Linked DNA regions of Homo sapiens: region 2 is linked to region 1. The links come from fine-mapping of genetic effects on gene expression. A gene starts in region 1. The other region holds a variant in brackets. All regions are shown on one strand. Distances are between the middles of the regions. Region 1 holds the start of SLX4 (SLX4 structure-specific endonuclease subunit). Region 2 has its middle 18 kb from the start of DNASE1.

Evidence for each region. PIP is the estimated chance that this variant, and not a neighbour inherited with it, causes the effect.
Region 2: its variant is fine-mapped to the expression of SLX4 in whole blood (TOPMed, PIP 0.95).

The regions. Positions count from the first base shown.
Region 1 is chr16:3,609,076-3,614,455 of GRCh38, forward strand. SLX4 (SLX4 structure-specific endonuclease subunit) reads right to left here and starts at 2,531. Exons shown (of 15, transcript NM_032444.4): 1 at 2,485-2,531; 2 at 1-491. It also overlaps a transcript of DNASE1 not described here. RefSeq lists a silencer at 2,389-2,738 and an enhancer at 2,779-2,848.
Region 2 is chr16:3,633,989-3,639,368 of GRCh38, forward strand. It overlaps a transcript of DNASE1 not described here. Among named protein-coding and RNA genes, the nearest start is that of DNASE1, 18 kb to the right of the region's middle. RefSeq lists an enhancer at 3,622-3,671. The variant C/T (reference allele first, on the strand shown) is at 2,791.

The DNA of each region.
Region 1 (5,380 bases):
GTGGTTAAACATGTTTAAAGCTTCCCTCTGTTAAAGTCCACAACTGGGCCGGGCGCGGTGGCTCACACTTGTAATCCCAGCTCTTTTGGAGGACGAGGCGGGGGGTGGATCACCTGAGGTCAGAAGTTCGAGACCAGCCTGGCCAATATGGTGAAACCTCGTTTCAACTGAAAATACAAAAAATTGGCCAGGCGTGGTAGCAGATGCCTGTAATCCCAGCTACTCGGGAGGCAGAGGCAAGAGAATCGCTTGAACCTGGGAGGCGGAGATTGCAGTGAGCCGAGATCGTGCCACTGCACTCTAACCTGGGCAACAAGAGCAAAACTCTGTCTCAAAAAATAATAATAATAAATAAATAAAGTTCACAACTGAAAGAGTGTTTTGTTGTCCAATAGATGCCTCTGAGATCGAATACATATGAACCTGGTGCTCAGATAATTCTCCAAGATCTCCATGATGATGAAACATATATGGTTCACTTAATTACACATCTGTGGAAAACCAAAAGCATGTAAGTGTAATCAGACATTGTCATTTTATGCCAGTTCTTCCAGGGAGGGACAAGGGCATGTGGGGTGAGGGAAAAGTCTTCGGAGTAACAATACTGTCAAATACTCAGTCCAGCCTGGTTAACATGGTCTAACCGTCCTATCAGACATCACAACAAAAGGACCTAGAAACCTGTCAAAGCATGTTGTTCTTCCACAGGTATTAAAATATGTGCATCTTGGGAGAGTGTTTTCTTAACTGAAATTTAGGGAGCAAACCCCATAAAAGGCAGTCACCACAGAAACAGGATGATCCCCAAATCTAGGAAAACTATCTCCTACACTGATCTAAGACCCCTGGCTGTTAAAGAGGCTCTTTCTGTAAATACTGCAACATAAGAGACAGAAAGAGACATTATATTCTCATGAACACTCAGGAGAGAAAAGGTCACTTTTACTTATCTTCTCAACCCAGCAAGGCTCTCCAAACCTGGATGACTGGAATGTCGCCTGTGTGCAAAGGCTGGGCCTCGTGAGCATGGTTGTTTACTTTGGCACACAGCTAAGTGGGGTTCAAAAATCAAAACTGAATGACCCAATGGCAGAAAGTTATTCCTTTCAAATACAATAATGCAATCTCCACTGTCCAAGGAATCTAATTAATCATTTTGTTTTCCAGAGCTGAAAATACTCCTACCTAGAATCTACTTTGTATGGCTGGCGCATTCTCTTCTGTGTCTTCCCCTTAGAGAAGTGTCCTCTAATCCTTTATGGACCGTCTCCATCCCCGTTAATCCCTATCATCGCCCACTGTTTTCACAATGGCATCTGTCATAGGTTATCATCATATGAAACAGGTAATATCTATCGAATGCTTACTGTGTGCCAAGCACTGTTCCAATTGCTTTCCAAGTCAAACTCGTTTAATCCTTACAAGAAGCCTATATGGTGGAATCTCTTGTCATCCTGTCTTTACGGCAAGGAAACACGCGCAAGCAGAATGAGGAACTGGCCTAAAGCCAGTTCAGGAACAGCTTTCACAGTGGCAGGGCTGGGATCAAACCCAGGAAGTGTGGTTCGAAACTATCCGCTCTTGTGTTTTTATTCATCGGCTTATTATCTGTCCCCCATTAAGCTCAACACTTCAGGAGGGTAGAGATCCATCTATTACTTTGCAACCTCTTTGGCTGATCTGGTGCCTGACTTGAAATAAGTGCTCCACAACTACTTGTTGAATTCATGAATTGCAAAGAGTTCGGTATAATGGGAGTAGAGAGAAAGGTGTAGGAGAAAACGCTGCGGGGAGAGGAAAGGATTGGCTCACAAGGGCCTGGAAGGTCAGGCTAGGCAAAGTGAATTTTATCCTGTTGGATGCGGGGAGCGGCTGGAACAAATTCCACCTCCACAACTGTGTTGATCTCCGCATCTCTGTTGATATGAACCTCACAACAGTCTATCTCCTCCTATAGGTGCCCAGTCAAGATTTACTGAATGACATAACGGATCCTGCAAGCCTGCAGGTTTCCAGAGGGAAGGGGACTTGTGCCTCCTTGCTTCGTACCTACCGCAGCCCACGGCTCACAGCAGGCGAGGGATGAATGAATGGATCGGTAAGGGGCGGACCCTCCCGCTTCCCCCAACCCGGCGACCTACGGAAAGGGGCTGAGGGGTTCCCCGTCTGGGAAAAGGGCTGCCAAAGACTCTAACGGCTCTAAAGTCAGACGGAGAACCCCGATCCCCGGACTGGCCCGGACGGAGACCACCGTGGGGATCCGGATCCGCCACCCTCCTCCCTCCAGGCGGGCCCCGGCCCCTCTCCACCCGAGTGCGGCTCCTGCCTCTCCGTCGGGGCTGCGGGCCTGCCGAGGCCACGGAGCCAGCGAGGGAGACGGGCGAGAAAGGCTCTTCTCCCTTAGGAAAGAGAGAACGGCCCGAAATGACAGGACCTCCGCCTCCCGGGTGCCGACTCCCAGCCCCACAGCCCGGCTCCTCCTACCTCCGGCGCCGCCGCGGCACCTTCTTAACGGAGACTCGCGCGCCTGCGCATGCGCCGCCCGCGCCCCCGCGGAGCATTGCCTGCGCGCAGGCGCAGAGCGGGCGCGCGCGGTGGTGCGGCAGCCTCGCTTCCGGTCTTCCTCTGCGGCGCCGGGCGCGGGCCCGCGGCGGCCAGCGCTTCCGGTCGGCAGGAGGCGGGGCGAGGCGGAAGCGGCGCTTGCTTCAGGTGGAGTCTGTTAGTTTTTGAGAAAGAGTTAGGGCGAGTTTAAGGCACTGTGGCAGCTGTGAGATAAAGTCTGGTTCCTCCCCAGCTGGCTCAGGAAATGTTCGCGGATACAACGGCGGCCCCCTCTGGGCATACCTGCCTGTGGAGCGGAGAGTGGACGGTGTGAGGGGGACCGGGAGAGGCACCAAATCTGGCCTGGGGGCCCGAGAAGCTTCCTCTCAGGTGGGGTGGCGTGAGAGTCGAGGCCTGGAGGTCGGGGAGGGTTAGCTACGTGAAGAGGGGATTCTGCCGCGCTTCAGGTGCCTGGAGGGGATGCCCGAGCTCTTCCGCAGGGCTAGGGTGAAGCCAGCCAGGGCCTGGGGGAAAGGTAGCAGAGGTTTGCCATGGCTTGGTATTTGAGGGACTTTACACATCGTATTAAGGGTTTGAGCTTCAACTTGGGGTCGTCGGGAGCCATTGAAGGTTTTTTGTTGTTTGTTTTTTGAGACGGGGTTTTGCTCTTGTTGCCCAGGCTGGGGTGCAGTGGCGCGATCTCGGCTCACTGCAACCTCTGTCTCCCGGGTTCGAGCGGTTCTTGTGCCTCACCTTCCCAAGTAGCTGGGATTACAGGCGCCAGTCACCACGCCCAGCTAATTTTTGTGTTTTTAGTAGAGACTAGGTTTCACTCTGTTGCCCAGGCTGGTCTCCAACTCCTGACCTCAGGTGATCCGCCCGCCTCGGCCTCCCAAAGTGGTGGGATTACAGGCGTGAGCCACCGCTCACGGCTTTTTTTTTTTTTTTTTTTAAGTAGAGACGGGCGGTGGGGGCGGGGGGGGGAGTCTCACTATGTTGCCCAGGCTGGTCTCGAGCCCTGGCCGCAAGAGATCCTCCCGCCTCGGCCTCCCAAAGCGCTGAGATTACAGGCGTGAGCCACCACGCCCGGCGTAAGATTTTGTTTTTAAAGGCCTAATTACAGTGAGAACAGATGAGGCAAGGACACCCATTAGGAGGCTATTACATAATCTAGATGAAAAGTGAGAGCGGCCCGAATTAGGAGGTGGAGCGAAAAGAATGGAGAAATATGGAGCATAGTCAAGACGCAGTTGTTAACGATTTGCCGGTTTCTGGCCTTAACATCTGAGAGTAGTGTGCCTCCAGTCACTGAAATAATGAACACAGGAGAGGTGTAAAGGAATCAGTTTGCAGGGCAGACAATATGTTTTTTAAAAGATACAGTATCATAAAATGCACACTAGAAGTGTACATTCAGTGGTTTCCAGTACGTTCACAGGATTTGCAGCCATCGTCGCTAATTCCAGAACGTTTTAAAACCCCAAATCGAACCTGCCGTACCCATTCGTAGTCACTCCGCAATTCCCCCGACCCCATCCCCTGGCAATCACTTATCGGCTTTCTGTCTCTGTGGTTTTGCGTATTCAGTACATTTTATGTAAATGGGATCATGTGATACTTGGCTTTTTCTGCTGGGCTTTTATTAAGCATGTTTTCAAGATTTCATCCATGTAGATGAATCAGTACTGCATGCCTTTTCATGGCTGCATAATCACGTGTTTGGATGGACCATGTTTTGTTTATCCATGTATCAGGTGATGGGCATATGGATGTTTTTACTTTTTGGCTGTTAGAAATAATGCTGCTATGAACATTCGTGTTCATAACACAAGTTTTTGTGTTCTAGGAGTGGAATTACTGGGTAAGACTACATTTGATTCTGAATGTTGAGCTTCAAAACCTTCCAAGAGGTTTTCCTTGATGAAGGATTTAGGAGGTGTTTACTTGCTCTCTGGCTTGGAAATCTAAGTTAGTTTGTAATATGGTTTCCAACTGGATAAAGAAGACAGAACAAGAATGATAAGCAGCCCAGAGGCAAGGGTAGGGCAGGGTGTCTTGGGACTTGAATTTATAGAGGAGACTGAGTGACGACATGGAGAGGCCAGTGCTGTTGAAATAATTTCTCTTTCCTTCCTTCCCTTCCTTGCTTCGTTTTCGACGGAGTTTGGCTCTTGTTGCCCAGGCTGGAGCGCAGTGGTGTGTGCAACCTCCACTTCCCTGGTTCAAGCGATTCTCCTGCCTCAGCCTCCGGAGTAGCTGGGATTACAGGCGCCCGCAACCGCGCCTGGCTAATTTTTTTTTTTTTTTTTTTTTTTGGACAAAATCTCGCTCTGTTGCCCAGGCTGGAATGCAGTGGTGTGATCTCGGCTCACTGCAAGCTCTGCTTCCCGGGTTCACGCCATTCTCCTGCCGCAGTCTCCCGAATACCTGGGACTACAGGCGCCCGCCACCACACCTGGCTAATTTTTTGTATTTTTAGTAGAGACGGGGTTTCACCATATTAGCCAGGATGGTCTCGATTTCCTGACCTCGTGATCTGCCCGCCTTGGCCTCCCAGAGTGCTGGGATTACAGGTGTGAGCCACCGCGCCCGGCGTAATTTTTTGTATTTCTAGTAGAGACGGGGTTTCACCATGTTGGCCAGGCTGGTCTCAAACTCCTGACATCAGGCGGGCGATCTTCCTGCCTGGACCTCCCAAAGGGCTGGGATTACTGGTGTGAGCCACCGCGCCTGGCCTGAAATAATTTACTTACATTTCTCAAGAAAAGGAGGCGTGCCACCACGTTCAGAGCCACAAGGGAGACATCAGCTTTTGGTTAGGAGGAAGAAATAGGAACAA
Region 2 (5,380 bases), 25 kb after region 1:
TTTAGTAGAGGCGGGGTTTCACCATGTTGGCCAGGATGGTCTCGATCTCCTGACCTCGTGATCCGCCCGTCTCGGCCTCCCAAAGTGCTGGGATTACAGGCGTGAACCACCGCACCTGGCCATAAGTGAAATTATTGACAGCAATATCATAAGGGACAGTAAGGATGATTATTGACCCAATCATTGAATACATTGTTGCGGGTTTGTTTTTGTTTTTGTTGTCGAGACAGGGTTTTTTTGTTTGTTTGTTTGTTTTTTGAGACAGAGTTTCGCTCTGTCACCCAGGCTGGAGTGCAGTGGCGCAATCTGGGCTCACTGGAAGCTCCACCTCCCAGGTTTGCACCATTCTCCTGCCTCAGCCTCCTGAGTAGCTGGGACTACAGGTGCCCGCCACCATGCCCGGCTCATTTTTTGTAGTTTTAGTAGAGATGGGGTTTCACTGTATTAGCCAGGCTGGTCTCGAACTCCTGACCTCGTGATCTGCCCACCTCGGCCTCCCAAAGTGCTGGGATTACAGGCATGAGCCACTGTGCCTGGCCGAGACAGGGTCTTGGTCTGTCGTCCAGGCTGGAATATAGTGGTGCGATCATAGCACACCACACCCTTGAACTCCAGGGCTCAAATGATCCTCCTGCTTCAGCCCCTCAAGTAGCTGAGACGACAGGTGTGCACCACCATGCCTAGATAATTTTTTTTTTTAATTTCTAGTAGAGACAGGGTCTCGCTATGTTGCCCAGGCTGATCTTGAACTCCTGGTCTTAAGAAGTCCTCCCGCCTCAGCCTCCCAAAGTGTTGGGATTAACAGGTGTGAGCCATTGTACCCAGCTTTTAAAAATATTAATAATAGAGTCAGAGTGTTACTATGTGGCCCAGGCTAGAGTGCAGTGGCTATTCACAAGTGCAATCCCATGACTGATCAGTACAGGAGTTTTGACCTGCTTCATTTCTGACCTGGGCTTATTCACCCCTCCTTAGGCAACCTGGTGGTCCTTAAGGAGGGGAGGTCACCATTTTGATGCCAAACTTAGTGCAGACACTCAGTCCAAATAGCCCAGAACTCCTGGACTAAAGCTATCCTGCCTCAGCCTCTTGAGTAACTGGGTCTAGAGGCATGCACCACCATGCCTAGCTGTTGCTGTTATTACCTTGAACAAACTGTTAAAAATAAGTTAAAAATAAGAAAAGTAGACCGGGCGTGGTGGCTTTTGCCTGTAATCCCAGCACTTTGGGAGGCTGAGGCAGATGGATCGCTTGAGGTCAGGAGTTCAAGACCAGCCTGGCCAACATGGTGAAACCCCATCTCTACTAAAAATAAAAAAATTAGCTGTGCGTGGTGGCGTGTGCCTATAATCCCAGCTACTCAGGAGGCTGAGGCAGGAGAATTGCTTGAACCTGGGAGGCAGAGGTTGCAGTGAGCCAAGATCGCACCATTGCACCCCAGCCTGGGTGACAGAGCCAGACTCTGTCTCAAAAAAAAAAAAAAAAAAAAAAAGTAAGAAAAGTAAAATATTTTGCCTTCACTTATTTATTCTCTAATGCTCTTCCTTTATAGGTCTTTATTTCTGACCTGTATTATTTTCCTTCTTTCTCAAACACTTCTTAATATTTTTTGCAAGGCAGGTCTACTGATGACAGATTCTGTTAATTTTTATTCTTCTGAGAAAGTCTCTTCTCTTTTGAAGGGTAATTTTACTGGATACAGATTTTTAGGTTAATAGGGTTTTTTTTTTTTCCTTACAACACTATAAATATTCCCTCTACTGTTTTCCCTTGAATAATTTCTCAAAGAAGTGTGATGTAATTCTTATCCTTACTCCTTTATAGGAAAGGAATTTATTTCCCTGTGGCTTCTCTCAAGATTTTCTCTTTGTCTTTGATTTTCTGTAGTTTATTGTATGCTTACATGTAGTTTTGTTCTGTTTTTGTTTTTTGCTATTTATCCTACCTGGTATTCTGTGAGCTCCCCAGAACTGTGTTTGGCATCTGTCATCAGTTTTGGAAAATTCTCAGTTCATTATTGTTTCAGATACTTTTTCTGCTCATTTCTGCCTGTCATCATCTTCTGGATTCCCATTATGCATATTTATGCCTTTCTAATTGTCCCACAGTTCTTGGATATTCTGTTCCATCTTGTTCATTCTTTTCTCTCTGAGTTTCAGTTTGGGAAGTTGCTACTGACATTTTTTTTCAAGCTCATTGATTCTTTCCTTTGACTGTATCTAATCGATGAATCCATCAAAGGCATTCTTCACTTTTCTTAGTTTTTTTTGTTTCTAGCATTTCCTTTTGATTCTTTGAGTCTTTATCTCTGCTGAAATTACCCATCTGTTTTAGCATATCATCTACTTTTTCCATTAGAGCCCTTAGCATATTAATCATAGTTGTTTTAAATCAGAGTTGTTAGCTGTGATAATTCTAACATCTCTGCTATTTCTGAGTCTGGGTTTGATGCTTGCTATATCTCTTCAAAGTCTGCTTTTTAATCGTAGTATGCCTTGTAATTTTTTTGTTGAAAACCGGACTTGATGTACTTGTTAAAAGGAACTGAGGAGGCCGGGCATGGTGGCTCACGCCTGTAATCCCAACACTTTGGGAGGCTGAGCGGGGAGGATCGCTTGAGCCCAGGAGTTCAAGACCAGCCTGGGCAACGTAGAGACCCCGTCTCTACTAAAAATAGAAAAACTAACTGGGCATGGTGGCACACGCCCGTAATCCCAGCTACTCAGGAGGCTGAGGCACGAGAATTGCTTGAACCCGGGAGGTGCAGGTTGCAGTGAGCCAAGATCATGC[C/T]ACAGTACTCCAGCCTGGGCAACAGAGTGAGACTCTGTCTGGGGAAAAAAAGAAAAAAAAACAGGCCAGGCACAGTGGCTCATGCCTGTAATCCCAGCACTTCGGGAGGCCAACGCAGGCTGATCACTTGAGGTCAGGAGTTCGAGACCAGCCTGATCAACATGGCGAAAGCCTGTCTCTACTAAAAATACAAAAGTTAGCTGGGCATGGTGGCAGGCGCCTGTAATCCCAGCTACTTGGGAGGCTGAGGCAGGAGAATCGCTTGAACCCAGGAGGCAGAGGTTGCAGTCAGTAGAGATTGAGCCAGTGCACTCCTGCCTGGGTGACAGAATGAGACTCCATCTCAAAAAAAAAAGAAAAGAAAAGGAAGTAACTGAGGAAAATCAGCCTTTGGTGTGAGTTTTTTAGTTTATCTGGCTAGGCGTTAGGCTCTGTCTGCTGTTTGCTGTAACTATAGGTGTCAGAACTAAAATTTCCTCCTGGGTCTGTTTTTCCTTCCTTGGGTTTCCGTAGAGACTTCTTAAATAAAGTCTGAGATATGCAGGTTTTTCCGTTCTATTCTCTTGTTATTATATAGGAGCCCTATTTATGTGGTGGGAAGGAGGGGAAGTGTCCTAAGTCCTGTGACTAGGTCTCAGTCTTTTTGTGAGCCTGTGCCCCTGGCCTGTGACTTTTACCAGCACTTCTCAGTTTGGGGTTTTTGCCTCCTTAGGTGAAACAGGAAGGGAGAGGGGGCTGGAGTTAGGCCCTTTCTTTCCTGCCTGTGGAAGGCTTAGGGGTGCTTAAGTTGGGTCAACCTTTCCCTTAGGCTGATGAGGATCTTATAAAACCTAATTAAGTTAGGCTCTTGTAAAATAGTTTCCTTTGAGGACAGGCCTTGTTAAGAACAGGAAGCTCTAGACATAGTCCACATGGCTGCTTTCCCCCTCCCCCGCCAGAAGTATGAGAGGATCTTTCTCTGATCTTGACTGTGAGAGTCTGGTAGGGCTCATGGAGGTAAAGTCCACATTGAGTCTCCAGCAGTTCATGAATTGCTGTGTAAATTTTCCTACCCTCGTTTCCACTCCTGGGCTCCTGCTCAGGTAAGCTCCAGTTCACCCTGTTGACATGTCTCCTGTGTCGGGGGCAGTCATTTGCCCTGTAACTTCAGTTCTCTGATGCAGCTAAAAGGGGTTGTTTGCCAGTTCAGTGTTGTTTCTTGTAAGGATGGTAGTGACAACTTCTAAGCTCCTGACATGCCTCACTGAAGAATGAAAGTCCTTTGCCTTCATTTTTTAATGATATTTTTGGTAGATAAAAATAATTCCAGTTGACCAGTTTTTGTGAGTGTGTGTGTGTGTGTGTGTGTGTGTGTGTGTGTGTTTTTCCCAGTACTTTAAAGATGTTACTTCTTTGTCTTTCCGCTTACAGCAGAAGTATCATGTCATTCTTACCTATATTTATCAGTACATAATATGCTTTTTAGCTTAACTGCTTTTAAGACTTTTTAATTTAACACTGGTTTTCTACAACTTGATTATGATGTGTCTTGGTGCAGTCTTCTTCAGGTTTATTTTGTTTGGGTTTTTCTTTTTTTTGAGGCGGAGTCTCGCTCCATTGCCCAGGCTGGAGTACAGTGGCGCAATCTTGGCTCACTGCAAGCTCCGCCTCCAGGGTTCACGCCATTCTCCTGCCTCAGCCTCCCGAGTAGCTGGGACTACAGGCGCCCGCCACCACACTCAGCTAATTTTTTGTATTTTTTAGTAGAGACGGTGTTTCACCGTGTTAGCCAGGATGGTCTTGTTCTCCTGACCTCGTGATCCGCCTGCCTCGGCCTCCCAAAGTGCTGGGATTACAGGCGTGAGCCACCACGCCCGGCCTCTGTTTGGGTTTTATTGACTTTCTTGGATGTGTGAATTGACAGTTTTCATCATATTTGGGAAATTTTGCTTATTTCTTCAAATATTTCTGTCTCCTCTTTGTTTTTCTTCTAGGACTTCCAATTATGTGCACATTAGACAGCTTGATAGTGTCCAATAATTTTTTCTCTCTGCCTTATTTGAGTAGTTTCAATTGCTATGTCTTCAAATTCATGGATCTTTTCTCTTTCAGTGTTTATTTGGTGTTAATCCCATCCAGTGCATCTTTTCATTTCAGGTTTTGTTTTTACTGTCTCTGGAAGTTCCATTTGGATCTTTCTATATCTTCCGTGTTCTCATCATGCTCATGTTTCCCTTTACCTTCTTAAATATATGCCGAACTATTGTCCTTGTCTGCTAGTTCCTTTATCTCTGTCGTTTCTAGGTCAGTTTCTATTGACTGTGTATGGTTATAGGTCATATTTTCCTCTCTTTCTTGCATGTCTGTTATAGCAGTTATCAGTTTATTGCGTCTCAACTCTAAATCCACCCTTCATTGCCACTTGTGATACTGGAACATTTCTCCCTTGCCCCATGCTGGTCTTTGTCAGTGGAAAGCGTTGAGAGGAAAGGGCATTTCTTGGTTCTTTGTGCTTTGCTTACAGCTGTCTGTGACATGAGCTGGTATGTGGGACATATAGGGTGCTCAGGCAGCTTTCAGGCAGGTCCCATAGCACCCCAGCTAGCCGCCT